Homo sapiens: one gene and its partners. The protein of the gene in region 4 interacts with the protein of the main gene of each other region in a pairwise test. Each region holds a gene or a part of one and is shown on either strand. Other genes may lie near its edges. The genes, in order: DTNA, USH1C, DMD and CTNNAL1.

Region 1 (7,030 bases), on a different chromosome or scaffold from region 4:
ACTCTTTCATTTGGTGCTGGTTGCTATGAGAACCACCGGCATGTCCCCTCCAGAAGCAGTCCTGACAGAGCTGGTAATTGTGACACTGTTGGCATCGGTAGCGAAATCCCATCATACTCTCACTGTGGCAGTAGGAACACTCAACCGGATGGAAGACTAAGGGGGAAGTAAGTGAAGAAAAACCAAGAAAACAAAAGTATGAACCAGAAGAAGGAAAAATACAGCCTTACAGGAATTGCACCTTTCTTCTCTGCACCACGATTTCAGATGATAGTTGATTTGGGCTCAGAGAAACATTTAGTTCATTCCTGGAATCTTACAACCCTTTTCAATCATGCCTGTGGGGAAATGAAATGAAATGGGATGGAGAAGAGGTGTCCTTTTAACAACAAAAATCTCTGTAATGCCATTTGCTCTTTCTATTCCCATCTCTCACATTACAAGAATTTAAATTAGCCAAACAGACTTGCCTTTACCCCAAACTGCTCTCTGTCTCCAGGAGACCAGCACAGCTCACTGGAAGACTCAGAAGCACAAGGGGTGAATGCTGATTGTCCAGTGGGAAGAGAGCGAATATCAGAGACACGGAGAATGAGAGGAAGAAAAAAGAAAGGAAGATGGGCAGAGAATGGAAAACTGGTGTGGATGAGATAATTAAGTTATTTTTTAAAAAATAGAGTGACTAATGGCTTACTTAACGAGTGGTGTTGCCTACATCTGACAAACAGATTTTTTTTTCTTTCCTGAGGCAGGTGTATAGGGCCCTAAAAAAGATGTGCAAATTATCTGAAAACAGTTCTAAATAATTCAAATGCCTCAAGAGACGGTTAACTTTCTTTGGTAGGAAATTTGAATTATAAAGCAGGCAAAGCAAAATACTAGATTTGAAGCAAAGTAAAATATTAGATTTAAGTGATCAAATCCAAGTAATTGTCTACATGCTATGAGCTAGATACTAAAACAACAATAACAATTCTTGCCTTTGGTAAAGCTATTCTCCGGCCTAACCAGTCAGGAAAAACAATGAAAATAATAATAAATGAAGATAAAAAGCAAAGTGTAAAAACAAAGACATAACTAGCTCTGGACGCATTGTCTTCTAAACAAGTGTCATAACCTTTCTTCCCGGCTCTTGAGAAAGACTAGAGTGGGACTTCAATCTAGGGACAACTGTTCTGGGATGGTGCCTAAGAAACTGATCTCCTGCAGCAGGAAATGCTGAGAGAGAACGAAAGAAATTATAGCTTTATGATTGGAAAATGACTAGTTCTAGAACTGTAAACAGTAACGTGAACTCATTTTGCATAATAACATGGACCTTGATTGCTCTTCGCTTCTGCATATGGATAAACATAAAAAAACTATGATTGTTAGTGATTGCAAAAAAATAAAATAAATTCATTCTTTAAATTTTCTCCATGAGAAAAACAGGATAAATTCATAACTTCTAACTAACAGATAAATAAGGGCAGATGCTAAAAATTCTGAATGATAATTTAAAATTAAGCTAACTTTAGCTGCAATGTATATTAAAGAAATACACAGAAGTTGAGTAATATATAGAGACTTAAGTTAAATCTCAGTAAGAGATAGAGACTAAATTATTTCCTCGTCAAGTCTGGAGAAATTTCAGAGTTACATTGAACAATAAGTAGGAACACCTAAAGATTAGATGGAGGCACTGAACTGCTCCATGTTTAATTTTCTGTAAATTTTGCCCCAAATGGTATTTCATATTTAAATCTGGATATGCCAACAGTAGTTCCTTTTATCCTAGAAATACTTGCTTTAAAAAAAGACATGATACGAAAGTTATTTTACTCTTATCTTTAACGTAAGTACAACTATTGAAAGCTCACAATCTGGAACATATGACTAAAGATTAACAGGGTGCTATCATCTATTTTTTTTTCTCATTTCTCCCACCTATTTCTGGCTGAGTGCCTGGGAAGAAATAATCAGTACCGTGTATGCAAATATGAGAAATTCGGATCTAAAACAAATACAAAATAATGTCACACTCCTTGTTGAAGTTCGCCTTCTATCGTGCCAAGTCTTTTAACCACACCTGACTTGTAATTGAGAAGAAGACCATGAGATTTATTTTTGGAACTGACAGTCCTAATTTTTCAGTGGTCCTTTAAGGCCTTCCCGAACAGGGAGATGGGTTAGTTCTACCCTAAACAAAACTAAGAGCCACTAAATAGGCTTCCCTAAAACAACAGCCTGGGCTTACTAACTGTAGAACTAATGGCCTAATTTCAATAATTTAAAAAATCACCTTTGCTCCTTAGTAACTACTCACCATTTTCCACATTTGCTAGTCGATGCAGAAGAGGCAACCAGACCAGACACTGCGGGGGAGGATCTGACATAAGCGTGTCCAAGAAACCATTTAACGTGACTTTTTTCTGCATAAAAAAACCCCCCATAAATTTAGGACAGAGAATCATCTCAATTTACCTGCTATGTAAATATCATATCATTTGAGACTGAAACAAAAGAGCACTCAATAAATGTCTAATATCTGAAGAAACAGAACTTGCCAAATGTGTTATTAAACTAGTTTAGAACTGAAAACATCGTTTGCTTTTTATACCTAAGCAGACATAGGACTGAATTCTCTCCACTGAGGCTGAGTCAATAGTATCACCAGGAGAAAAACAATTCCAAGAGCATCATTTGTATATATGAAAGACAGTATAAAAATAATGAAGCAAAATAAAGAATGGAAATTCTCCATGGAATTTTACTCAAGAACGCATCATAGCTCACTCTACAATTTTCCTGTCAGTCAGTCTTCTAAATTTATAGAACAACTTCCCTTCTGAGCTTCCTCAACTTCCTTAAGTACTAAATATTTAGTGGTTAATGTGAATGGTTCTGTTATACAAGAGCAGGAGGGAATCCTGTTAGGACAGAACCATCTACATTTTTAAAAATTTGCTCCTTTTATTACTTTATATATAATTCCTCTCAATTCAGTCTGCTTCTTTCTCACTATCCAGGTCCTTTTGGATGTACAAAAGGAATGCATTGTATCTATAAGTTTCTTTCAAAATGATAAAAGTAAGAAAGCTATATTAATACATGTACTGTAATGGTATAAATAAAAAAATACATATTTATATGCAAAAATCACTACTTGAAATTTTGAACTAGAATATCAAAGGGGATGGGATAATTTTATTTATTTATTTTTTAAAATATTTTATTTATTTGCTTGAAAGATGGGGTCTCATTATGTTGCCCAGGCTGGACTCTAACTCCTGGTCTCAAGCTGTCTTCCTACCTCCTCCTACCTACCTCAGACTCTTGAGTAGCTGTTAATAGCCAATTCATTAAGTACAAAAATAAACTGGTCTTATTATTTTTGTGTTACCTCTTTTCATATTTGAAATGATCTTATTCATTTTGACTATTTGTCATACTTGCTAAAAAGCACTCCTGGAAGTTTCCAACAATGCTATTATGATTTCAACATGTATAAGTTGCTTATCATTAAGGATATATATAAATCATATAACAGAACAGTCTATAGGATATTTCAAAAGGAATTTTGAACATGTCAACATCACATATAATTCTTGAACACATAGGTCCTTTTTTCTCTTTTTTTTTTCTTTTAGAGACAGGATCTCACTCTGCTGCCCAGGCTGGAGTGCAGTGGCACAATTATAGCTCACTGCAACCTTGAACACCTGGGCTAAAGGGATCCTCTCATCTCAGCCTCCCAAGTAGCTGGGACTATAAGTGTGTGCCACCACACCTGGCTAATTGTTTAATTTTTTTTTTTTTTCAGAGATGAGATCTTACTATGTTGTCCAGGCTGGTCTTGAACTGCTGGACTCAAGCTCTCCTCCTGCCTCAGCCTCTCAGTGCTAGGATTACTGTGTGAGCCATCACACCAGCATAGGTCCTTTTAAGATTTTTTTTTTAAAACCCAGTCCTATTATTCTAGCTGATTTTGAATGAGACATATATTCTGAGGCATTAGCACATTTACCAATTATTCTATAATACACTAACTAAAATTCAAGAATTCAGTTATAAATGAAATTATTCTTGTTTCCATGACTGGGTGAAGTAATACAACAGGTAGTTACATTTCCTTGAGTCAGATCATCTGCATATTTGTAAATATGAACTGAAAGTGCACAAAACAAAAGCAACAACAACAAGAACACAAGAATAACATTAACAGATGGAATTAGAAGACCAGAGTTAAAAACTCAGCCCCCTGCCCTCACTAGCTATGAACTTTATATTGTTAAAAAAGAATCATATTTTCCTTGTTAGGTCACAGGGTTGTTGCAAGCCATAAATCAGATAATTCACTTTGTGAGGCATAAAGCACTGTAAAAATAAAAGGAGCCATACATTTAGCATGCCATGAGAAAAGTTGGAAAGCAGTAAAATTGAATGAAAAAATAGATTTGTGTTTTGAAGTGATTGACTTTTTTTTTTTTTTTTTTTTTGAGATGGAGTCTTGCTTTGTCTCCCAGGCTGGAGTGCAGTGGCACAATCTTGGCTCACTGCAACCTCTGCCTCACGGGTTCAAGCAATTCTCCTGCTTCTAGCTGGGACTACAGGTGCCTGCCACCATGCCCGGCTAATTTTTGTATTTTTAGTAGAGACGGGGTTTCAACATATTGGACAGGCTGGTCTCAAACTCCTGACCTTGTGATCCGCCCGCCTTGGCCTCCCAAAGTGCTGGGCTTACAGGAGTGAGCCACCTCACCCGGCCTATTGACACTTTTAAAAGTTAATTTCAGTAAAAAGAAAAGACTTCCTGACTCTTAATCCATAAAGCTGTGTAGTGAGCATTTGTTGTATGCATTTTATGGGGCAGGGATATACCTTTTTTTTTTTTTTTGAGACAGGGCCTTGCTCTGTCGCCCAGGCTGGAATGCAGTGGCGCCATCCGGGCTTAAGCTATCCTCCTGCCTCAGCCTCCTGAGAAGCTAGGACTACAAGCATGTACCACCATGCCTGGCTATGTTTTAAAAATTTTTCGTAGAAATGGGGTTTCCCTATGTTGCTCACACTGGTTTTGAACTCCTGAGCTCCTGAGCCTCGGCCTCCCAAAGTCCTGGGATTATAGGAGTGAGCCACCACACCCAGTCAAGAGGCATTTTTAGAGGACAAAAAAGTTAGTTTGGATTCTCAAAAAATGGTAAACTAACCTTTAATGTATGGATTTCTATGCTACCACTGGGCTACGCTGGAGAATGGGCCTGGAGTCTCTCTACATGACCAGAGAGGTACACACATAGATAGCCCCCTAAACTATGCAGCTTCCCAGGGTAGCTTGAGCCATACCCAGTTAAAACACATCACTTGGAACCCCAAATGTGTCATGCTGTAGAAGATTCAGGCAGCTGTGTTTACCATATTTTGGGCCTCTCAGGTCATGATGTGGCAGATGTTGGGATTCCTTTCTGGTATCCTTTGCTAAACCAATGTTAAAGCTTGTTGCCGGGTCAAGCATATATTTCACATGAGGCTGAGTGAGACAATTAAGCCCTTTTGAAAGTGCAGTGATAGTAAAAATAATGACACTGAGGGTGTAGGTGATATGGTAAGGCTTTGTGTCCCCACCCAATCCCATCTTGAACTGTAATTCCCAGGTGTTGAGGGAGAGACCTGGTGGGAGGTGATTGGATCATGGGGTGGTTCCCCCATGCTGTTTTCATGATAGTGAGGGAGTTCTCAGGAGATCCGATGGTGTTATAAATGGCAGATTCCCCTGGGCTTTTCATTCTTTCTCTTTCCTGTCGCCATGTGAAGAAGGTAGGTCTTTGCTTCCCTTCACCTTCCACCAGGATTGTAAGTTTCCTGAGGCGGAACTGTGAGTCTGTTAAACCTCTTTTCTTTATAAATTACCCAGTCTCGGGTATGTCTTTATAGCAGTGTGAAAAGAGACTAACACAGAAGGGTTGTTGTAGGGATTAAATTAGACAATGAAAGGAAAAAATTTAGCACAGTGCCTGCCTCATGGTCAGTAAACACTGTCTATTATTGTGATCCAGATGTGCTGGGTTTAGTTACTGGCTCAGAGGTCATTTGCCAGAGGCTGAAAAATACAATACAGGTTGCTATCACACAGAATAATTTGTCTGAGTATCTGTGACCTGGAATGACATCTAGAAGGAGAGCAACCACTGTTTGAAAGAGATACTTCCTTAAACATATTTTTCTCCTACCTGTTGGGAGAAACAGGATCTGGCTGACTGTTCTGTGTAACCAAATGAAGGACCTTCAAAAACTGCCGTGGGTAGTTTGAGAACTTCCCGAAGGAATTGGTCATATCGTCCATAAACCATCACCCCACTGGAGTCAGAAATCATTGAGAAAATATCTGATGAAAGGAAAAGGAAAGATATTATTCATCACATGAACATTCTCCACTGTTTTTGTTCAATATATCTGCTACAAATGACAAAAAAGTAGCAAAATAAACATTTTTTATGAAAGAATAATATAAAAGCTAATTTTTATGCTGAAATATTCCTGGCATAATGTTTTCTCTGGTTTCTTTTTGTAGATGATTCTGGCACATAGCAATCACAAGTAATTTGGGTAAAGTTAACATTTTAATGAGAGAGACACTTATTAAATGTCTTTAATAAGACACTACATTTTTGTTTTGAGGTCAACTATTAACTCTCATGTAGCTCAACAAGAGAAATTTTTGTATATATGAGAGAGACGCTGACTTCATTTGAAACACAATGAGAGTTTTACTATAAAGTTGGGGTGTGCGTATATTCATTTATCTAGCTAGAAATTTACCAATTTATATTATCACTAAAACTTTCGGATTTTGGTGTAAGATATTTGAAAATCAAAGACACGGTGAGGATAAAGATGTAATGACAAACACTTGATTAACTTCCTACAGAAGAAGAAAACTTTCTATGAATTACAGTTTTCTGGGTGGAAGGCACTTGATTTACAGGGAAGGGTTTTCTGACTCGTGTAGTGAAGAGGAAGCCTGGTCTTGTGGATGATCAATGAGGTAAAGTCA
Region 2 (7,668 bases), on a different chromosome or scaffold from region 4:
GTGAATAAATGAATGATTAACAAATTCCTAGAGAGTGGTGGCTCTTTCTGATCTTATTCATCCCAACCGGTTGTCAGATGCCTGGCCTCAGGCAGAATACACAGCTATGCTCATAAATGCATGATTGCTGAAGAGGCAATAAATACTTTTAAGCCAATGAGTAACCAAGTTCCTACCCTGTGCTGGTGCTGCGAACAGAAGAGCAGTCTCCCTTTGAAAGCTGGTTCTCTGAGGGAGAAAACAGTCTCTGACCAAGCCCTGCTCCCCCACATCCTGGCCCAAGGTTGCTACTAGTTACTGGAAGGGTATGCAAGTGCTCCTGGCGGCCTTGGGGTAACTTCACAAATCAAAGGGAGTCGATGCCTGGAGCCTGTTGGCTCCCACTGGACACTCTGCAGGTATCAGCTGGAAACAGTGTGGTTACTGTGGGCCCAGAGCAGCCAGTACTTTAATTGCTAGTTAGTTTTGACTGTCTTGTGAGGTAAGTTCTACAAACTCCATCTCATAGCTGAAGAAACTAAAACTCAGGGAGAGTGGGTGGCTTGGTCAAGGTCTTCCTGACAGTGACAGGGCTAAGATTTGGTCCCAGTTCTGCTAACTCCAGATAATAATCAACATGGACATTTCTTGAGAGCTCCCTAAGTGCCAGGGTCTATTTAAGCTCCCCACACACATGTAGGTCTCATTCAGCATTCATGGTAACCTTATTCGTTAAATATTGTTATCTCTTTTCACAAGTAAGAGCACTGAGGCACAGAGAGATTAAGTAACTTGCTCAAGGTCACAGAGCACTTTCCATTATAACACACTACCTTAAATATTACTTCCAACAACTAAGGATTTAGATCACAAACCATTTCTTCCAAAACACTAAGGAAGGGACCCCTACAAAGCAAACAACAGCAAGCTGTAAATTTCTCCCAGCATGTCTGTGTGCCTCCTTTCTATCCTCTGTGCTTCATCCTCTCTCCCCAGTTCCTGGATGATCCCCAACCTGGGAGGGGAAGGCTGTGGCTGTCTCCAAGGCAGCAGGGCACAAAGTCCAGCCTGGGCCTTGCCTAGCGCATGGCGCCTGCCCTGCCTGCACACAGGGATATTAATAAGTAATGACTGTTGCGATGAGGAAGAGTAGGGCAGAGGAAACGTGGAGGTCTGAGGCCCTTTGGAGCCTGTGGGACCTGGGGAAGAGGAACAGGGCAAACCCAGGATCTGCATCAGACACCAGGGACCCTGGAGATGATTCTCACAAAAAAGAGAGAGCAGGTACCCCACAGAGTGAAGGCAGAAGACCTGATGTTATTTCAGGCCAGGGGCAGGAAACTGAAATTCAACCCTGAGTCTTGGGTTGGGGGATGGAAGGCTGAGCTCCTTCAAACTGGGTTGCCTGAAATCTACACTCACAAAATGTCCTTAGTGGCTGAAATTTCTTCCGACATGTCTCTTTGCAACAGGATGTAACAGTGAATGCTCTCTCAAGCTCCCCTTGGTATTCGCCAGCCCCTAAATTCCTGCTGAACTTCCAGCTATCACCCACCCCTGGGAGCAGGACCAGAAATGCCCAAGACCTTGTTTTCAGGAGCCTTCTGCCAGTTTGAGCTGTCCCTTTGTGCCCCTACAAAAGCTTGGCCTCAACACGCAGCACTCAGACATGGGTAATTACCAGGGTAGGGTCTGCCTCCCACCTACACCACCAGCAAAGGGCACAGACTGGGTATGGCTGAGAGGATGCTCAAAACATGCTTATTAAATGAATAACTGACCCCGGGCCCTTGGCCCCAAGCCCCTGTGGCCCCTACACTGGCTAGCTCCTTGGGCTCCTATGGGCCTCTTTATGGGAAGGAAGGAGTTAAGCACCCTGACCTGCCCTACCTGAGCTCAGCTCTCAAACCAGGAAGAGGTTTGGCTTGGTCTAAAGACACTGCCCCTGGGGTCTTTGGGAGAGCCTTGGGTCACACAGTTATCAATAGTTAAGTTATCAATAGTTACCTGCCCCTCAGGCAGGGCCTGTGGGGAGCTCCAGATACCACCCACCCCCCCCAAGCGGCTTCATCCCCAGACTCAGAGGCATCCTAAGACTTGGTGGGGAAGTAGGCTGGATCTCTTTGATGGCCCTCTCTGGTCTCAGGGCCTCAGCAGATTCTGCACAGCTTTGTGAATCATTCTCGAAATGCCCTGTGTGAAACCTGGCCACTTCCAGAGATGGTCCTTGAGAATCCCAGACCACCAGTGAGGCCCCTCACTGGGACACACCAGGGTGGACCCGGCTCTGCCTGAAGGATCTGGCCGGCCAGAGCCCAGCTCCGACGCCCTCAGTACCTCCTCCCTTCCTCCCCACCGCACCCGGGTCAGCACCAGCTCCTCAGCTACTTCTCAGACCCTAAGAAACGCCCTTAGGCAGGCAGGGCTGAAATGCTTCTAACTCATGTTCTGAGGTCAAAAGGCAGAGAGAGAGACGTCTAGTTTCCCTTCTCCCAACCCTCACCTCTCAGATACTGCCCCAGACTGTCTCCACATGCCTCAACAGCCCTGAGCTGGGGGCACTAGGAAGGAGAGGGGCTTGCCCACAAAGGGGGCACCTCAGAAAAGCGGCCAAGACTGGAAGGAATTCAAACCCCAGAGACGTCCCTGCCCCTGGAAGGCAGAGGGAGAAAGGCTGGCAGAAGATCGACTCGTTTAGCAGTCCTTGAGCCGGGAGTCCCCGCATTCCCTCCCTCACTTTACTGGGGATCCCTGCTGCCAGCCAGACGACCCTCGGGTGTCCCAGCCCAACCAGAGCCATCAGGTGGGGCCGGAAAAGGGAGGGGCAGTGCCGGGGTGTCCACCCCCTACCCACCGCGCCCAGGACTCCGGAGTCCCAGAAGCCTGGGGCGCCCTGCAGCTCTGACCTTATGCCGGAATTCTCGGGCCACTTTTCGGTCCATGGCTGGGCCAGGTCCAGCTGCGTCGTTGCACGACCCGTTCCTTCGGGTGCCCGGCTGCCAGGAGCTGGAAAGAGCCGCGACCGCGACCGGGCCAGCCGCCCTCGGAGCTGGGGGCGGGGCCTGAGCGCGGAGGGGCGGGGCCAGGCCTCTGTGGGGCGGGGCCGCTGCGAGGCTGGAGTCGAAGGTGCTGAGTCGTCGCCTCCCACTGAAGCCTGGGAGCAAATGGGCCCCAGTGTGCCTATGGGCCTGAGGTGGCAGTAGCTGGGCTTCAAGCTGGTATTTCTCTGGAAGTGGTACCTGAACACATGCGTTTGAGGAAGAAGATCGTGGAGACGTAGGGAGGAGGTTTGGGACTTTTTTGTGGGGACCGGAATAGAGAGATACGGAAACTATTTACACGGGCGGGGGGCGGGGCAATCTAGTCCGTTTTCTCTGGATATTCTTTTTTTTTCCCCCCCGAGACGGAGTCTCGCTCTGTCGCCCAGGCTACAGTGCAGTGGCATGATCTTGGCTCACTGCAAGCTCCGCCTCCCGGGTTCACGCCATTCTCCTGCCTCAGCCTCCCGAGTAGCTGGGACTACAGGCGCCCGCCACCACGCCCGGCTAATTTTTTTTTTTTGTATTTTTAGTAGAGACGGGGTTTCACCGTGTTCGCCAGGAAGGTCTCGATCTCCTGACCTCGTGATCTGCCCACCTCGGCCTCCCAAAGTGCTGGGATTACAGGCGCGGGCCACCGCGCCCGGCCTTCTCTGGATACTCTTGTCGAGGTTCATGGCCCTCCTGGACTGTCAGCCCTTGCTACGCCCTCACCTCCAGCGTACCTTCAGTCCTGGCTTCCTCCTGCACTTTTCCACCAGGGAGAAATCAATCCTTGTTCTGTGAATTCCTTGGGGACAGGGCTGGGTTTTACTGTGGGCCGCAGGGGTCTGAATCAGTGTGTGTGAGAGTGCCCCCCTCAACTGATTTCCCCTCCCACCTTCCCTAACACCTCCACCCCCAACAAAACAAGACAAAACAAAACCCAAACCCAACACACTCACATATCCATCGAAGCCTGGCAGAGCCTGGCAGTGACATTTTGATCTATGGCTGACCTTCACCCAGGGCCCAGACCCTCTGGTTCATTTAATTCAATTTGGTCAGCATTTGCTTAACTCCTAGGTCTAGTGCTTGGTGCAAAGACAATGATGAACCAGGCCTGGAAAGGAATGAAAGGAAAGATTCATCAAAGACAATGATGAACCAGGCCTGGAAAGAGATGAAAGGAAAGAGGGGCTAGGAGAGGGGTGATAAAAATGTGTAAATCAGAGGCTAAGTATGGGGCTTGTGCCTGAACTTAACCCAGGGAGGCACCTGAGCCCTTTGTGCCCTGTCAAGGGCAGGGGCAAGGAGATGGACAGCAGCTTACATCAGGTAACCACTTACAATTGTAACTCTGGGGCACCTAAACACCCCTCTGCGTCCCTCTCCCCAATAGCTGAAGTTTTACAAGCACACTATTTTTGTTGCCTAGTTTAAGATGTAAATCCCTCTTGGAGAAGAACCTTAAAATATGATCTGTTTTCTCACCTTAGCATTAACTATTAAGTCAGCGATAAAATGGAAAGACTTGTGGGATTTTTGAATGGTCCAGAAAAGGCCACACAAAATGCATTCCCCTCCGACTTACTTCATTGATTCTCTACATTGGAAAAGAATGTCATATGGCTGTTTATTTTGTATTTAGAATCCTGGCAGAGGTGAATGAATGTCCTTATCCAGGGGAATGCTGTTCACCTGCCACACCAATCCTTATTTTACATTGGCCATTACCCCCACAGACTCCCTCCACCTTAAAATGCCCCCTGCTTTGTTTTGAGAATAGCATTGAGACCTGGTTCTCCTCTCTCATGAATTTTTGTTTCAAGCTTCCTTGGAGACAATCAGTCTTTGCCTGTTCCTTAACCAGCATTCCTTAAGGCTCCATCCTTAGCTCTTTCCTCTTCATCTTCCTATCTGTGCCCCCAGCTTCCTCCTGTGTGAAGATAGCTGTGTTTGCTTTATTTACCACTATATGCCTAGAACAGTGCATGGCATGGAATCAATGCCAAACAAATTTGTTGAGTGAATGAATGAATGAATGAATGAATGAATGCATCTCAAATCTATACCCTTGCCTAGAAGTCTACTGGGGCCAATACCACCACGACCACCACCACCACCATCATCATCATCCTCTGTAAGACCTAGCATCTAGTTGGTGTTCCCTAAGTGATGACGAAGTGAATGATGTACAGATTCCCCAGGTGCTCAGTCCCATGTTTTTGCCATTTTAAAATTCCTCCTGGGCAGACAGTGGACCTCGTTCACACATATAAAGTTGTTTTGTCAAAGTTTGGCCTTGATGGTGGCAATAACATAGGAGTATGAAACACTTTTATTATTCAATCGTCATTTCCTGAGCTCGGGCAGGAGCTGGTGCTGGGCATTCAGAGGACTAAGGCATGATCCATTCCCTAGAGGTGCTCAAAACTGGTCATAGGATACGGATGTGGAGACCCAGGTGGAAGCTGAGGTGGGGCATGGTGAGAACATAGGCTAGGACTCTGCAGGCTCTGTTATTGACCACTGATCCCTGAGTGGCATGTCCCAGGGCCTCAGCATGGCCCTCTGTAAAAGGAGAGGATAGGGCCAGACTCATACCTGCATCTTGCGTCTCTGGTATTGGGCTTCCAGGACCCAGGTAAGGGGAGCTGGAGGTTGCATAGGCTGCCTCTATGCTTCCCTAGACAATTTAGGGCTGAGTAATCTGAATCCAGCCTCCCCTGGGGAGGTGTGGCCACAGGCCAAGAAAAGCAGAGGCTAGGCTATGGACAGGCGCCTAAATTATGGTAATAAGCTGGGTACTCCTGTCACTCTAGTTCGGGGAGGAGCTGAGAGCCTGGGAGGAGGGGCTGAGGGAGCCCTGGGGCATGAGAACAAGAGGGACCTCGGCTGCGGAGTGGAGGTGTGACCCTGCCTTAGCCCGGGGAGGCACCTCGGGAGGCTGGCCCTGCGCTCAAGTCCTCCGGTCCCCTCGTGTCCCTATGGGAGTCCTGGCGTCTGCGCTCTGCTGGCTGCTTTGTGTCTGGCTGCCCTGGGGTGAGCAGGCAGCCGAGTCCCTGCGGGTGCAGCGCCTCGGTGAGAGGGTTGTGGACTCAGGGAGGTCGGGGGCTCGAGGAATGAGAAACGTTAAAGGAATGAGGAATGGGCCCGCGCAGGTTGGAGAGAGGGAGGAAAGAGAGGTTTGAGGGAGAGCAGAGGGACACCCAGGAGGAGCAGTCAGGGGAGGAGGGACCCCGAAGCCAACAGAGGCAGGCCTATGACCGCGGGGGAAAGAGTCCAAAGTTAGGCTGGGTGGAAGAGACCCGAGGTGGGGAACTAGAGAGAGCTGGGGGCCAAAGACTGAGAGTAAACAGGGAGATCCTGGCTGGAGAAGGGTCATCAGGAAGGGAGAGAAAGGATTTGAGAAGGCTGCAGGGAGGGAGAATGGGGGAATGCTCAGTGGCGTGGGAGAGGCTTTCTAGCAGTGGGGGCCAGGTGGTGGGAGGCCCCAGTAAAGACAAGCACAATTTGAGTGGAGAATAATCCCCCTCCCCAGCCGCAGCACCCGTTCTGTGGGGCAGTGCAGAGCCACAGCCAGAGCCAGCCGGGCAACCCAGGTGAGTAGGTGTGAGCTGTGGCGGCCCCACCCACAGCTCCCATCCGTATTTCTGGCATCAGCGACCCCAGGGCTTTAGCACTTAGGGTGGGATAGGCCAGGGGACTGCGGGGAGGCATAACCCATCCTAGCCCCCCATCCATGCCAGACTCGTGTTTCCTCCAGCAGCAGCCACCAGGAGGCGACCCTTGCCATGGGGGACAAGGCTACAGTCGTGGGAGGCCAGGTAAGGGAGGTCTTGGGAGGGGGCTTCATTGAGCAGGAGCTCATGTCTATCTGGATCTGAGGCTGGCAGGGAGCTCTGTAGGTTACAGGAGGGGTCTCTGGAGTTGTTCAGAAAGGAACAAGCAGATTCCTGGTATGTGTCTGAGGTGTGCAAGTTCATAAAACCCTTCTATTCTTTTTAATCTCTTGGGGGTCTATAGTCCACTCTTTTTTTTTTTTTTTTTTTTTTTTTTTTTTTTTTTTTTAGGAGAGGTGGGCACCAGGGCTCTTTCAGGAGAGAGCTGAGCTCTCCCTTCTGGCAGGTAAAAGTAGAAAGATGGACGTTTAGAAGAATGGAGTTCTCTTTTCCCTGACTGGCCTGCGAAGGCCCTCAACCCTGTCAGAGGCTCCTCTCCATACCCTGAGCGGAGCCTCAAGAATGCAGGCAAGACAAAAACTAGGCCACCTGGTGGAAGTTGCAAGGAAGGTTTGGTTGAGAAGCAGAGCCCTGAACTCATCCTTTGAGCCTTTTTTTTTCTTTTTTTGAGTCGGGGTCTTGCTCTGTGACACAGGCTGGAGTGCAGTCGCATAATCATAGTTCACTGCAGCCTCAACTTCCTGGGCTCAAGTGATCCTGGTGCCTCCGTTACCTGAGTAGCTAGGACTATAGGTGTGTGCCACCATGCCTGGTTGAATTTCAATTTTTTTGGTAGAGACAGAGTCTCACTATGTTGCCCAGGCTGGTCTTGAACTCCTGGCCTCAAGTGATCCTTCTGTGTCAGCCTCCCAAAGTGCTGGGATTAGGCATGAGCCACTGAGCCCGGCCTCTATCCTTTGAGTCTTGACCATTCCACTGCCCATCTT
Region 3 (7,030 bases), on a different chromosome or scaffold from region 4:
AGCCATAAAGCATTAGCAACTTGATTAGTTTGTAACGAATTTTAAACCTGCATATTGGGTGTGTCAAGACCTGGGGAAAATTGGAATGGAGAAATGAGTTAGTAGTCAGATAATTCAAAGCAAAGGACTCCCCCTTGAATGATCTATTAAATTGAGGTGAAACTATTTTATTAGAATTTTCTTTTTGATTGCCTTAATCTTTCGCTTCATTTTGCATCTGCAGACACAGGCTTGCTGGTTAGTGTAAGGTTATTTATGACACATTACATTCATAACATCTAATATGAAGGATAATAGGCTGAAACATTCAGCCAGGTGGAATTAGACTTCACATGCAATACAGTTTCGCTATTTCTCGTATTCTTCCAATTGCTCAGAATAATTCACCTGCTATTAAACTTTAGGGTATTAGATTTAACAGAAAACAGTGTATTTATTAATTTTCTTGAAGTATTAAAAGAAGTCACAATAATATGCAACATACTTCCCTTATATGCTTATAAAATTAAGTTATGGTAACTGCTTTTGACATTTTAAAAATATACACCAAATTAAATGGAACTGACACTATCACAGAAGAAGTTCCCAAGAAGTCTCATACATGGGCTGAACCCTATGCAGTTATTATTTACATAGGGCAAAATGGTTGAGTATCTGTTTGATTCATATAATTCAACCTAACTTAACTATAAAGACTTAGTTTCCAGATTTTGACATCCTGGTTTTGTGAGGAGTACTTTCTTCTATAATTACAGATGATGATCATTCCTCTTCATCTTACAAGTGTTAATAATAGGAACAAAAATGTACCTGTCAGAAAACCTCTATGGTTTATACCTACTACAAATAAAGAAGTGAGACCAAGCTAACAATTCTGAATCGCCTTTTTAAAGAGAGAACCATACACTTTCCATTCAGTTGTTTGAAAGAAGAGCAGTCACTCCTTTTTGTTTTGGCTGGTAACATTTCAGTAATAACATTATCTGATATTGTTCAATCTGCAATCAATTAGCAACCATCTTACTAGGCATCCAGTTCTTTTATGGGCACTGTAACCCATTAAGTAGTTAAACCAGGTGTGAGGATTAAGCTATTATTCTTCAAGTCAATGAGATAATGGCTTATGCAGGTTGACATAAGATGTACCATGAAATATTTATTATTTATCATGTATACATTAAGAAAGTAAAATCAGCATGGGATGATCTCAGGAAAGCAATACATATTTTTTGGATTAGACATTGAAGTAAAGTGAATGTATGATAAATTGACAAATTAACATTGCCAATGTTATGAAAAATGATGTAGCAAAAAAAATTAAGATGTATTTTCATTTTTGATAAGGGGTTTTCCCTGTTATCTGTTAATTTCTTGTGTCTTTAATTGGCAAAATTAAGCACTAGTGTTACAGAAGCCCAAAGTGAGGGAAACCACTCACTTTCAGAATGTACATTAGAAGTTTAAAACTGTACCCAGATTTTTTGTCTCTTTTTTTTTTATTAGTAGGCCTCTGTTAATAGAGTAGTAGTTGCAAACACATACGTGGGTTTGCCAGTAACAACTCACAATTTGTGCAAAGTTGAGTCTTCGAAACTGAGCAAATTTGCTCTCAATTTCCCGCCAGCGCTTGCTGAGCTGGATCTGAGTTGGCTCCACTGCCATTGCGGCCCCATCCTCAGACAAGCCCTCAGCTTGCCTACGCACTGCATTCAGCTCCTCTTTCTTCTTCTGCAATTCCCGATCAATTTCCTATTGAGCAAAACCAATACAGGGCCCAGGGCAGTTAGCTAACCACATCAACCGACTTGCAAGCAGCAAATACTTCTCTCAAAATTTCAAAGGCTGTTGTCCCTTTATTGTCATCCTTTGAAGTTTACAAATATGAAAGGCATGACTGTCATCCTCGCTCAATAACCCAAATATTATTTCAGTTATCCTTTGAATGCTTGGTTTTAGATATTCTAATTAAGTAAATATTGAAATTGGTCTAACATTTTCTTTCTTCTAAATTCCTCTGGTGTCTTGGGATTTGAAACAATTTGGAGTGATAACTCATTATTTATTAGGGACCGTCCACATAGAATATAATTTAGAGGGTAAGTGAATAAGTTATTTATTTCCTTTTTAAAGGTTTGAGGAACTCAACAGAGAATGAAGCAAAATAAAAAGTGTAAAATAATAACAGAAAAAAACATATTTAGACAATATGCAAATAAATCTATAGAGAGTGAACACTGATGTGTGAAGATGCTCTGATGAAATGAATGGGCTAACATGAGTAAGAAGTCGTCCATATACCGATAAGTCATTAGTTCATCTGGAACAAAGATACACAAAGTCAATTACAATTTTACCAGAAAACACATCACATTTCTTAAATCACTTTACATAGTCTAAAACATTTTATTCATTCAACATTACGTCAATTGAATAACACTTAATACAATACATTTACTGAAAACAACACACAATACAAGGAAATGCATCAAATCAAAGAGAACGTTAATAGAAACAAGAACATCAACATTTTAAATATGATCTTCACAGGTTAATTAAACTGTATAATAAAATCTGGTATTGACATTCTAAAACAACATTACCTTTATTTTCCTTTCATCTCTGGGCTCAGGTAGGCTGGCTAATTTTTTTTCAATGTCATCCAAGCATTTCAGGAGATCATCAGCCTGCCTCTTGTACTGATACCACTGATGAGAAATTTCTAGAGCCTTTTTTCTTCTTTGAGACCTCAAATCCTGTTCATGGTGCAGACATTATTAAAATATCAATATATATGTATAGTGCACTTCTGGCTGCAGTTATTTATCAAAATAATTTGCGTCCCTCATCTTTTTGTACAACTTAGGTTAAAATCATATTTAAATGCAAAATATACAAAGACATAATTAAATTGCCTATGCATGAGGCGGGACCCATGTATAGGAAGCTAAGAAACCTGAATAACACACTTAAAGTATTTTCTCTTAGCATGTTCAAACTTGCTTAAAAATTTTGTCACATTCAATTGACTCTTAATGAGCTAACTGTTGTGTAGTTTATGTGCAAGAGTTTAATATACGAATACAATTGACTTAACTAGATACAAACTCACAAACCTAGTGAGTTTGTATCTGACTTAAAATAGGTAAAATTCTAAAATGTATATCTTTAGCCTTGGGGCTCATCAACAAAACTTTATGTACTCAACCAATATACATTCATGTTTTTAGAAATGCCTACATAAGAGTTTCATAGGCCATTAATATTTTATGATTAGAAATATAAAGCCATTTTAGTTGTCTTATAAACTGTTCCAAGCTGTATGTGTAGAAGTGTCACCACTGTTCGTATATTGGTGAACATAACTAATAAAAAATTATGTGAGATAAATGCTTCTCCTTCCAAGGCTTGCATAGCCACATTTATCTTACTATACCAAATCATGCTCTAAATGCAAAACAATTAACTATTTGAAAAAAGAAAACAGCAAGTGCATGCTTTCAAATCAATGTGATAAGACTAATTTAATAAATCAACAATGGGAGGAAATCAGTCATCATGCTCTTTACAAGCACACTCAATATCTTCTGTGATTAATAGAATTACTCAAAATGCCATTTTATAATTCATGGGAACATAAGCTCTGCATGCAGCTTTCATTTCTACAGAAAGTAGCAATTAGGGTTTTATTCACAGGTTTAATTCGAGCGAAAAAATAATAAATATCAGGGAATTTCTAAAAATTTCATTCCATTGGAAAATTTTGACCTTCTCTAAAATATTTCATAAGGACCAGAATTGGAACTATTTGACAGGTTTAAAAAGTTATTGAATATGTTGGTATAGATTGGTTTGGCGAGTAGTGTTGACGATTTTGATTAATCACTTATAGCCTGTATTTGCAAGAATGAACTACATTTCATTATCTAGTTTGTTTAAAATTGGGAATTTAAACCTTGCTGTACTTTATGTTTTATGTTGAATTTTCAAACCTTCTGAGGAGTCAGATCGAACGCTGCTTTTTTCAAAGGTAGCAAGATACAGCCACGTGAATTAGAGTTGAGCCATGCCTTATTTGTGACATAACTCACATCTTTGCCAGGAGAAAGGGCTTGGTGGTCATCAATCTGAAACATCTTTCATTTCCTAAGCACAAAGTGATGTATAATATGTAAAATATTTAGAGATGTCATGTAGATTTCTTTAGAGGAATGCCAGATGACCATTAAACACTGCTATTCAGTAGGACACACACCATCATACGACCAGTGTAGATACTTCTGAAAGCTTGCTCACAGTTGGAAGGGTGTGAGTTACATAGCGTTCCGATTTTCTAGACACATTATGGTGTGCTTTTGCACTCCCTCGAGGAAGAGGCCTTTTCTGTTTACTATATTTATCAGCAGTTACCTTCAGAACACCTGCTGGCCAATTAGACTTTCCTTGTGGATTCCTTGCAGGCACAATATTGTGTAATTACATTCTCAGCAGTGTTTATTTGGTTGACTATAGGGGGAAAGGTTTTATTCTCTTATTTGCATGTAGAAAGCAGACTCCATCTACCTGCTAGGTGGATCCACCTTCATAACTACATAGCTCAAAAGAGTGATTTACAAGGAAAAGCTCAGCAATTAAAAGTATTAGAAAATCAGCCATGCATGCAAATAGTGATTATTGCAAAGCATATACAAAAAAAAAGTTTCACAAAACTTTCCACATGTCTAGTCTCAAGAACTTCCTAGATATTATTATAGAAAAATTAAGTTTATCCTGCTCTTCCTGCACAAACCAGATGAGTCACCTGGGGACTTGAAGCCATACACTACACTGCTTAATATGAAAGTAGCAGTTCTTATTCAAGGGCACTAAGATTATTTTTTAGGATTCCTACATAAATGAAATTTGACTTTGTAGATAGTTGCAAAGAGTGACTTTCTTAAAGGCATAATAAAGTTTTAAAAATAAATAAAAGAATCTAGGGCTTATTAAACAAGTATCAGGTTACCAAAAAATTGGACCTAATGCAAGCAAAATCAATTAAGTAAAGAAAGCAGGAATAATGGATACATGTAGATCGGTTATTCTGGCAGTTAGGCAGGTTTTTTTCAATATAAAGTAGCTGATAAAAATAAAGCACATTAGAAAATTAAATGTATAAGTACTATGAATGCATTCCCATCTTTCAATTACTACTTAGAAAAATATGTCTTTAAAAAGCCATAACTTTTAAGCAACACATCGTTCAAAATCAAATACCACTCAAAAATGTTAAATAAAGCATACACATTGAACAGAAAAAGTGAGTTTCTGATGACTAAGTCTGAAGCAGATTTTATTAATGCACATTATATTTTACCCTATATATTAAAAAAAAACCACAGGCAAGGTATATTATAATTTTAGCTCTAATACCTTGAGAGCATTATGTTTTGTCTGTAACAGCTGCTGTTTTATCTTTATTTCCTCTCGCTTTCTCTCATCTGTGATTCTTTGTTGTAAGTTGTCTCCTCTTTGCAACAATTCTTTTACAGTACCCTCATTGTCTTCATTCTGATCAAAAACAACAAGTACAGTCTTCATTTTGGTTTTTAAAAAGCTGTACATTGTTAACAGAGATAATAAGACATGTTATTTAAACACACACAAAAATCCAATTTAAAACTTTCATGGAATGCTATTATAAGATACTGTGCTCATAGCCTTTCTTTTACATTTGGTACTTGAGGTTTCAAAATAAGTTTCCTCCCATCTAGTTGTAAAGAACACATTTTTAGGGGCACCTGTAGAAAGATGGGGGAGTGTGGTACTTCATCATGTCAGACAAGTCATGAATTACTGTGAAAGTATTCTTTTGGCTTTTTTAGTGTAGTTCTAGAAATTAAAACATTAGAGAAATGAGCTAAAGTTATCATTTATAATGTTAACTGATCCATAAAGGAATACAGATGTGTATTTGTGACTGAGATAACAGCAAATCTGAAAATATTAACACACAACTACATGAAAATATTTTGATTTAAATGTACACTAATTCCTATCTAATAACTCCTGCTTCATTTCTGAAACCTAAATGCTCAATATTAATAGGAGAAATATCAGGATATTAATAAAAATCATGTGCTAAGTTACCATCAAATAATTTCTAAAATATGTCATATATGCATGTTAATTTAAATACGATCAAATAATACTAAAATATGGACTGGAAAATGGCTTTAAACATTTTCAATGGGTATTTTGTTCCTTTAGGCTGCAAGAACAATATCTTAATTTTCTTTACTTAGAAATAAAATGTTTTGAATAAATGCTGGTCTAATATAGTCGCATATATGACCATGTGATTTTTCACCTTTAGTTTTCTTTCTTTCAACTCAGAATGTGAAAACTTTGTATCAAGTAGTCTCACATTGTAATGGTACTCAAGGTACACTGATGACATAAGGAAAACAAATAATAAATTTCAAAAGTCACAAGTATTTGTATGTGTGTATTACAATTCAAGGAATTAGATGTTATATATTTAAATCTATAATGCATAAACTTCAACACGCAACTGAGGACTGATTCATTTTGTATGGGGGAAAGGGATTATTTTTGTCAGAGACTGGTCAATAATCTAAAGAAACATACGGCATAATATAGACACATTATATACTTATCATAATATAGACACATCATATACTTATAGTCTGTAAAAGACTTTACTTATTTTAAAAGGTGTTGTAAAAGTCTGTAGCATTTTCTAGGGCTGAGGACAAAAACAACAAAAAATTAAAAAACCCACTTCACTTCTTTCCCTATACCAGTTGAGGGCTCTAGGGCAGAGTTGGGGTCAGCCCAAGAGGTAATCAGTACTTTTTTTCATCTTGGTGCCCTCTAGTTTCTTCTTTGACCTGAAGTAGAGATTGCTGTAACTCAGCAACTTGGAAAGCCTCTTCCGTCTTTCCACAAGCTGAGTTGGCAAGGCCACCAAACCCCATACATGGGGAGTATTGATTGAGGCAGCTCCAGGAAGTGGGAACTAAGATTGGTG
Region 4 (5,453 bases):
TGTAAATTTGAAATTTCTGTCACTTTATCACTCATATAGTCTCCTTTGGCATTCCCATGTACATCTGAGATTTGAAATTTCTATCACTTTAGGCCAGGCGCGGTGGCTCACGCCTGTAATCCCAGCACTTTGGGAGGCCAAGGTGGGTGGATCACGAGGTCAGGAGATCGAGACCATCTTGGCTAACACGGTGGAACCCTGTCTCCACTAAAAATACACAAAATTCGCTGGGTGTGGTGGCGGGCACCTGTAGTCCCAGCTACTTGGGAGGCTGAGGCAGGAGAGTGGCGTGAACCCGGGAGGCGGAGCTTGCAGTGAGCTGAGATCACGCCACTGCACTCCAGTCTGGGTGACAGAGCAAGACTCCATCTCAAAAAAAAAAAAAAAAGAAAGAAATTTCTATCACTTTATCACTCATATAGTTTTATTTGGCATTCTGTGGGAAAGGGATTTCAGCTTAAGAGGATGATTGTCAACATAATCAGAAGTATTATAGAAAATGTGTCTTCTGGATTTTTCTGTAAAGCAGACTATAAATGAGCTATTTCCCTTAAGATAGTTGAAATTCTGAATTTATTTTTTTTTTCAGTTTGGCCCAAGTCCATTCTGTCATACCGCCCTGTAGGGGTGTTTTACTACAAAAGATCCACTACTTACCTTCTTCCTATGTGAGCTTAGTCATTAAATCAATGTTCAATGAATTGTCTCCAAACTGTGATGAACATAAAATTGCATACTTCATTCAACAAATATTTATTGAACTTGTGCTATATGTCAGATCTGGGAGAACAGAGCTCTGTGGAGAAAAGTGAACAAAGCAAAGCTCCTGCCCCCATAGAGCTTATGTTCTAATGGCAGAATATAGACAATAAGAATTTAAGCATTCAGTGCACATATGTAAGTACTTGGAGATAAAATCACGTACGACTAGAATACAGAGGTGATAGAGGGGTGGTCAGAAAAGACCTCTCTAAGGAGCCAGTGTTTGAATAGAGACAGTAATGAAGTGAGAGTTGGATGGATAAATGTGGGTAGAGGATTTTAGATAGCCAAAACAAGTGCAAAGCCCCGAGGTGCAGGGGTAGGGCTGGGTGTATCAGAAGAGTAAGGAGGCAATTATTGATGGGAGTGAAGTGAGCCAGAAGGAAAGGGGTAAAATATGATGTCTCTGTAGGCCATGGGAAGGACTTTTTTTTTTTTTTTTTTGAGACTTAGTCTCGCTCTGTTGTCAGGCTGGAGTGCAGTGGCACGATCTCGGCTCACTACAGCCTCCGCCTCCCGGGTTCAAGTGATTCTTCTGCCTCAGCCTCCCGAGTAGCTGGGACTACAGGTGTGCGCTACCACGCCCAGCTAATTTTTGTATTTTTAGTAGAGACAGGGTTTCACCATGTTGGCCAGGATGGTCTCGATCTCTTGACCTTGTGATTCGCCCGCCTCAGCCTCCCAAAGTGCTGGGATTACAGGCCTGAGCCACTATGCCCAGCTGATCCTATTATGTTTTAAGTAAGGTTTTTGGCTTGGCCAACAGAGTGAGTGGTAGTGCCATTTTCTGAGACAGGGAACACTGAGGGAGAACACTAGATTTAGAGGGTGGAAATCGAGCATTTTGTTTTGCACATGTTAAGTACAAAGGTCAGATAGGATATACACTTGGCCCTCCCTATCTGCAGGTTTTGCATCTGCAGATTCAACCAACTATGGATTGAAAATATTCAAAACAGTAAAAACAGTCTGGGCACAATGGCTCACTCCTGTAACCCTAGCACTTTGGGAGACCAAGCTGGGAGGATCACTTGAGTCCAGGAGTTTGAGACCAGCTGGGGCAACATAGTGAGACCTTGTCTCTACAAAAAAACAAAACAAAAAAAAAAAAAACTAGCGGGGCATGGTGGCACACACCTGTAATCCTAGCTACTCAGGCAGCTGAGGCAGGAGGATCGCTTGAGCCTGGGAGGTCAAGGCTGTAGTGAGCTGTGATCACACCACTTCACTTCACTCTGGACAACAGAGTGAGACCCTGTCTCAAAAAAAAAAAAAAAAGGAAGAAAACCAATAAAATATAACAACAGTAAAAAAAAACAAAATACATTTTAAAAGGTTAGAGTTCCAAGGGAGGGAAAACAATACAGTATAACTGCGATTTACTTAGCATTTACATTAACTTAGATATTATAATTTAGAGATGAGATGATTTAAAGTTTATGGGATGATGTGTGTAGGTTATATGCAAATACTACACTGTTTTATTTAAGGGACTTAAGCATCTACAGATTTTGGTATCCTTGGGGAGGTCTGGGAACCAATCTCCCATGGATACTGAGGGATGACTGTACAAGACTGATGTCAGGATAGTTCAGGAGTGGAGAGAGAGACCTGGGAGTTACCAGCTTTCAGGTAGTTTTAAAACCATCATACTGTATGAGACAGACATGGATTTTGTCCCCAAGGGGTTTGCAGGCTAGAAGGAAAGAGAAAATTTGCAGAATAGAAAGTGGTAACATGAAGTGATAAGGAACACTTGGGGAAGTGAATCATTTCATTTGGTTGGAGTCTAGATGTAAAGCTTACTGGTTTCCCTTTTAAAGGGAAGGTTGCAAAGTACGATTTGACCTTGAGATCATTTTATCCAGTGATAGCAAGGTGTTAAGCCTTTTGAATAGAGGGTAAAAATTAACCCTGGAATTATTGCCTCCTCCTTCTTAGTATTCTTTAATTTATTATGAAGACCTATTATTTTCATTCACAAACCACTCTCAGATTTTCCCTGTTCTCTCCATTATTACTGACGCCACCTAAAACTAAGCCTTCCTCCCTTTACTCCCCTGGCATCTCACTCTAAAATAGTCTGCAAACCATTTTAACATAATATGCTAAATACTTCTGTCTTACCTGTACAACCTTCTTTTTCACTCTACTTCTCCATCATCCTGTTCATCTCATTAAATTATAGAATTCATGGTACATGGTGAATAGTGAAAATTAATCTGAAAAAAAGTGGCAACAAAAACCAACCACCTGGATTGGTTCTCTCAAATGTCTGGTTATGGAATATGTATGGGTGACAAATTTTGTCTTGCCTAGATGGAATTGGGAAGGTCCTAACCCTTTTGACCTCATGCTTGAAAATTCATCATCCTTTTATAATTGAGCATATTTGAGATGAGCTCTAGGTCCCTTGCGTAATCTAGACATAATTTGTGTGGCTGAATATCACAGGTCTGTGTGACCCTCCAGAATAATTGGAGGTCTGGTGTAGAGAAGCCTCTCCAGGGATGGATTCTGCATCTGGTCTGTGGAAACTCCTTCTGAAAACAGTTAAACCCTTGTGCATTCCTGGTACTGGAAAAAGTTTAGGAGTTCCTGACAGACTTTTTATATCTAGGCTTTATTTTTAAAATTCTACGTAAAAATTATTAGTAAGTATATTTCTTACCAACTATCCATAGACATCAGTCTAAAATAGTGGTGTTTTCTCTTTCTACCAGGTTTTTGCTGCAGAGGGTTTAAAGCTTACTTCCAGTGTTCAAGCTTTTTCAAAACAGGTAACACATGTCTACCTACCTGGAGCTGGTGGTGGTATTATGTATAACCTACTTTGGGGGTATAATATCAATGTATAAATGTGTTTAAGGTATTAAAGATGGAGTTTTGTTGCGGGCTGTTATAACTTGTTAAATTACATTTCAGCTGAAAGACGATGACAAGCTTATGCTTCTCCTGGAAATAAACAAGCTAATTCCTCTATGCCACCAGCTCCAGACAGTAACTAAGACTTCTTTGCAGAATAAAGTATTTCTAAAGGTAAAAGAGACATATGAAAAACTTTCACACATCTATCTTTATCTGGTTAAAGCCCCTTTTTCTTCAAATAAACTGTTAGTACCCACAGAAGGGCAATTTATTTCCTTTTTTCATGCCTTGTCTACAAGAATCATTTATTATCTACTCTCATAACTGACCCCAGAGAGTAGCAGATTCACCAAATAAAGTAGTTTTTTGGACATCATTAATTCCATAGCACTGAACAGCTGCCCTTCAATTCTGAAGTCATTACCTCTGCAACTAGGACACAGGTGCCTCCGAGTCTGGTCTCCCATAATTTGTCTGAGAGAATATGGGTTTGTGCCCACAAAATAGAGTGCAAGGAATTGCAAAGGATGGGATTTAATTCCACTATTTGGAGTGTTTTGAGAAGCCCCTAAACAGCCTGCAGTAGAATGATTAATTTTCCACCCACTCTTTCTGCTGGGGTTCCATGAGATAGACATGAAATCTAGGCAGCTACCCCTGCACCTGTGTCCTGGGGCTTTGAGTCAGCTCATGTGCCTAAATCCATATCTCTTTCAAGATCCCTTAGATTTCCATATGGAGAAATTTTATCATGTTAAAACTAAATAAATGGTAAGGTCTTTTAAGTACTACTTTTAGAATATCATTTGCATGCTTTTTGTCATTGTAGGTTGACAAGTGTATTACGAAGACAAGATCCATGATGGCTCTCTTAGTCCAACTTCTTTCACTTTGTTATAAACTGCTGAAGAAGGTGAGGTAGTTTTTCTATTTTAGACTCATACTTTAAAAAATGGTTTAAAAGAAAATAGTTACTACTTAATTTTGTAATTTTTTTTTCAGAGTGAAACCAGATACTAATTGTCTTAACTCTTTCCAGCTTCAGATGGAAAATAACGGATGGGTCTCAGTTACAAATAAGGACACTATGGATAGTAAAACTTGAGAAGCTTTTGGGGTCAGATCTCTGGAACATCATGTGATGAAGCTGACATTTTTAAAAATCAAATGATCCTTTATCTTTTCAGAAATTCATCAATTTTATAAAGAAAACAATATTGAAATTTTGCTCTATTTTCTGATCATGAAACTGATTGTAAAGCTTTTTGACAACTAATAAATGTCTTGGTAATTGCTAGATTCTAATTGTAGTGTGATTTTTAAAATAGAACATTGCACTAATGTTCTTTAAAAGTCAAACCAAATATCCCAACTGTCTCAAGGACAATTTAATCCACAAGAAGCTATTTTGAATATGTGCTTAGCTTTGGCATATTTTACCTTAACTGTTTTCTTTATCATCTAGATCACTAATGTCAGCAGCAAACATACAGTAGTCTGGGTGAATGCAGGGTTTTCCTTAAACCTGTGGACTCTTCAATCCCTCTGTTTACCAAGTGTGACAAAAATCCCCTTGATGACCCTGTCCCAGATTGTCCATGCCAGCAGCAAGTTTGTTCCCTAATAAGCATTTTGTACAGCAAGGGTGGGTCTGCTGTGCTGTGTATGTCCCTCACCTACTCCCAAAAGTAAGGTAATGGAACTCCACAGAATCCTGGAACAACTCCTGGAGAGTATGAGATGGGTTTTTGGTTCTAGTTCTAGCATAGCTGGCCAGTCTGCCCTGAATATTAGCTGGGATTCTAAGCCTATCTTATAGACTT

The links.
Region 1: the proteins of CTNNAL1 (region 4) and DTNA interact in binary tests that used the Homo sapiens proteins (3 or more experiments, as listed by UniProt).
Region 2: the proteins of CTNNAL1 (region 4) and USH1C interact in binary tests that used the Homo sapiens proteins (3 or more experiments, as listed by UniProt).
Region 3: the proteins of CTNNAL1 (region 4) and DMD interact in binary tests that used the Homo sapiens proteins (3 or more experiments, as listed by UniProt).

What each region holds. Positions count from the first base shown.
Region 1 is NC_000018.10:34,811,290-34,818,319, reverse strand, and holds part of DTNA (dystrobrevin alpha), read right to left. Parts: intron 6,362-7,030; coding exon 6,207-6,361; intron 2,412-6,206; coding exon 2,306-2,411; intron 359-2,305; exon of another isoform or gene 157-358; coding exon 1-156. UniProt on the Homo sapiens protein: May be involved in the formation and stability of synapses as well as being involved in the clustering of nicotinic acetylcholine receptors.
Region 2 is NC_000011.10:17,541,387-17,549,054, forward strand, and holds the start of USH1C (harmonin), read right to left. Parts: upstream 3,031-7,668; 5' UTR 2,922-3,030; coding exon 2,886-2,921; intron 1-2,885. Other genes in the region: OTOG (otogelin isoform a precursor), read left to right, coding at 5,987-6,160, 6,749-6,826. UniProt on the Homo sapiens protein: Anchoring/scaffolding protein that is a part of the functional network formed by USH1C, USH1G, CDH23 and MYO7A that mediates mechanotransduction in cochlear hair cells. Required for normal development and maintenance of cochlear hair cell bundles.
Region 3 is NC_000023.11:32,340,534-32,347,563, forward strand, and holds part of DMD (dystrophin), read right to left. Parts: intron 5,548-7,030; coding exon 5,410-5,547; intron 2,754-5,409; coding exon 2,601-2,753; intron 2,318-2,600; coding exon of another isoform or gene 2,309-2,317; exon of another isoform or gene 1,834-2,308; intron 1,750-1,833; coding exon 1,567-1,749; intron 1-1,566. UniProt on the Homo sapiens protein: Anchors the extracellular matrix to the cytoskeleton via F-actin. Ligand for dystroglycan.
Region 4 is NC_000009.12:108,942,051-108,947,503, reverse strand, and holds the end of CTNNAL1 (alpha-catulin), read left to right. Parts: intron 1-3,485; coding exon 3,486-3,542; intron 3,543-3,687; coding exon 3,688-3,801; intron 3,802-4,459; coding exon 4,460-4,543; intron 4,544-4,632; coding exon of another isoform or gene 4,633-4,650; exon of another isoform or gene 4,651-4,669; coding exon 4,670-4,735; 3' UTR 4,736-4,927; downstream 4,928-5,453. UniProt on the Homo sapiens protein: May modulate the Rho pathway signaling by providing a scaffold for the Lbc Rho guanine nucleotide exchange factor (ARHGEF1).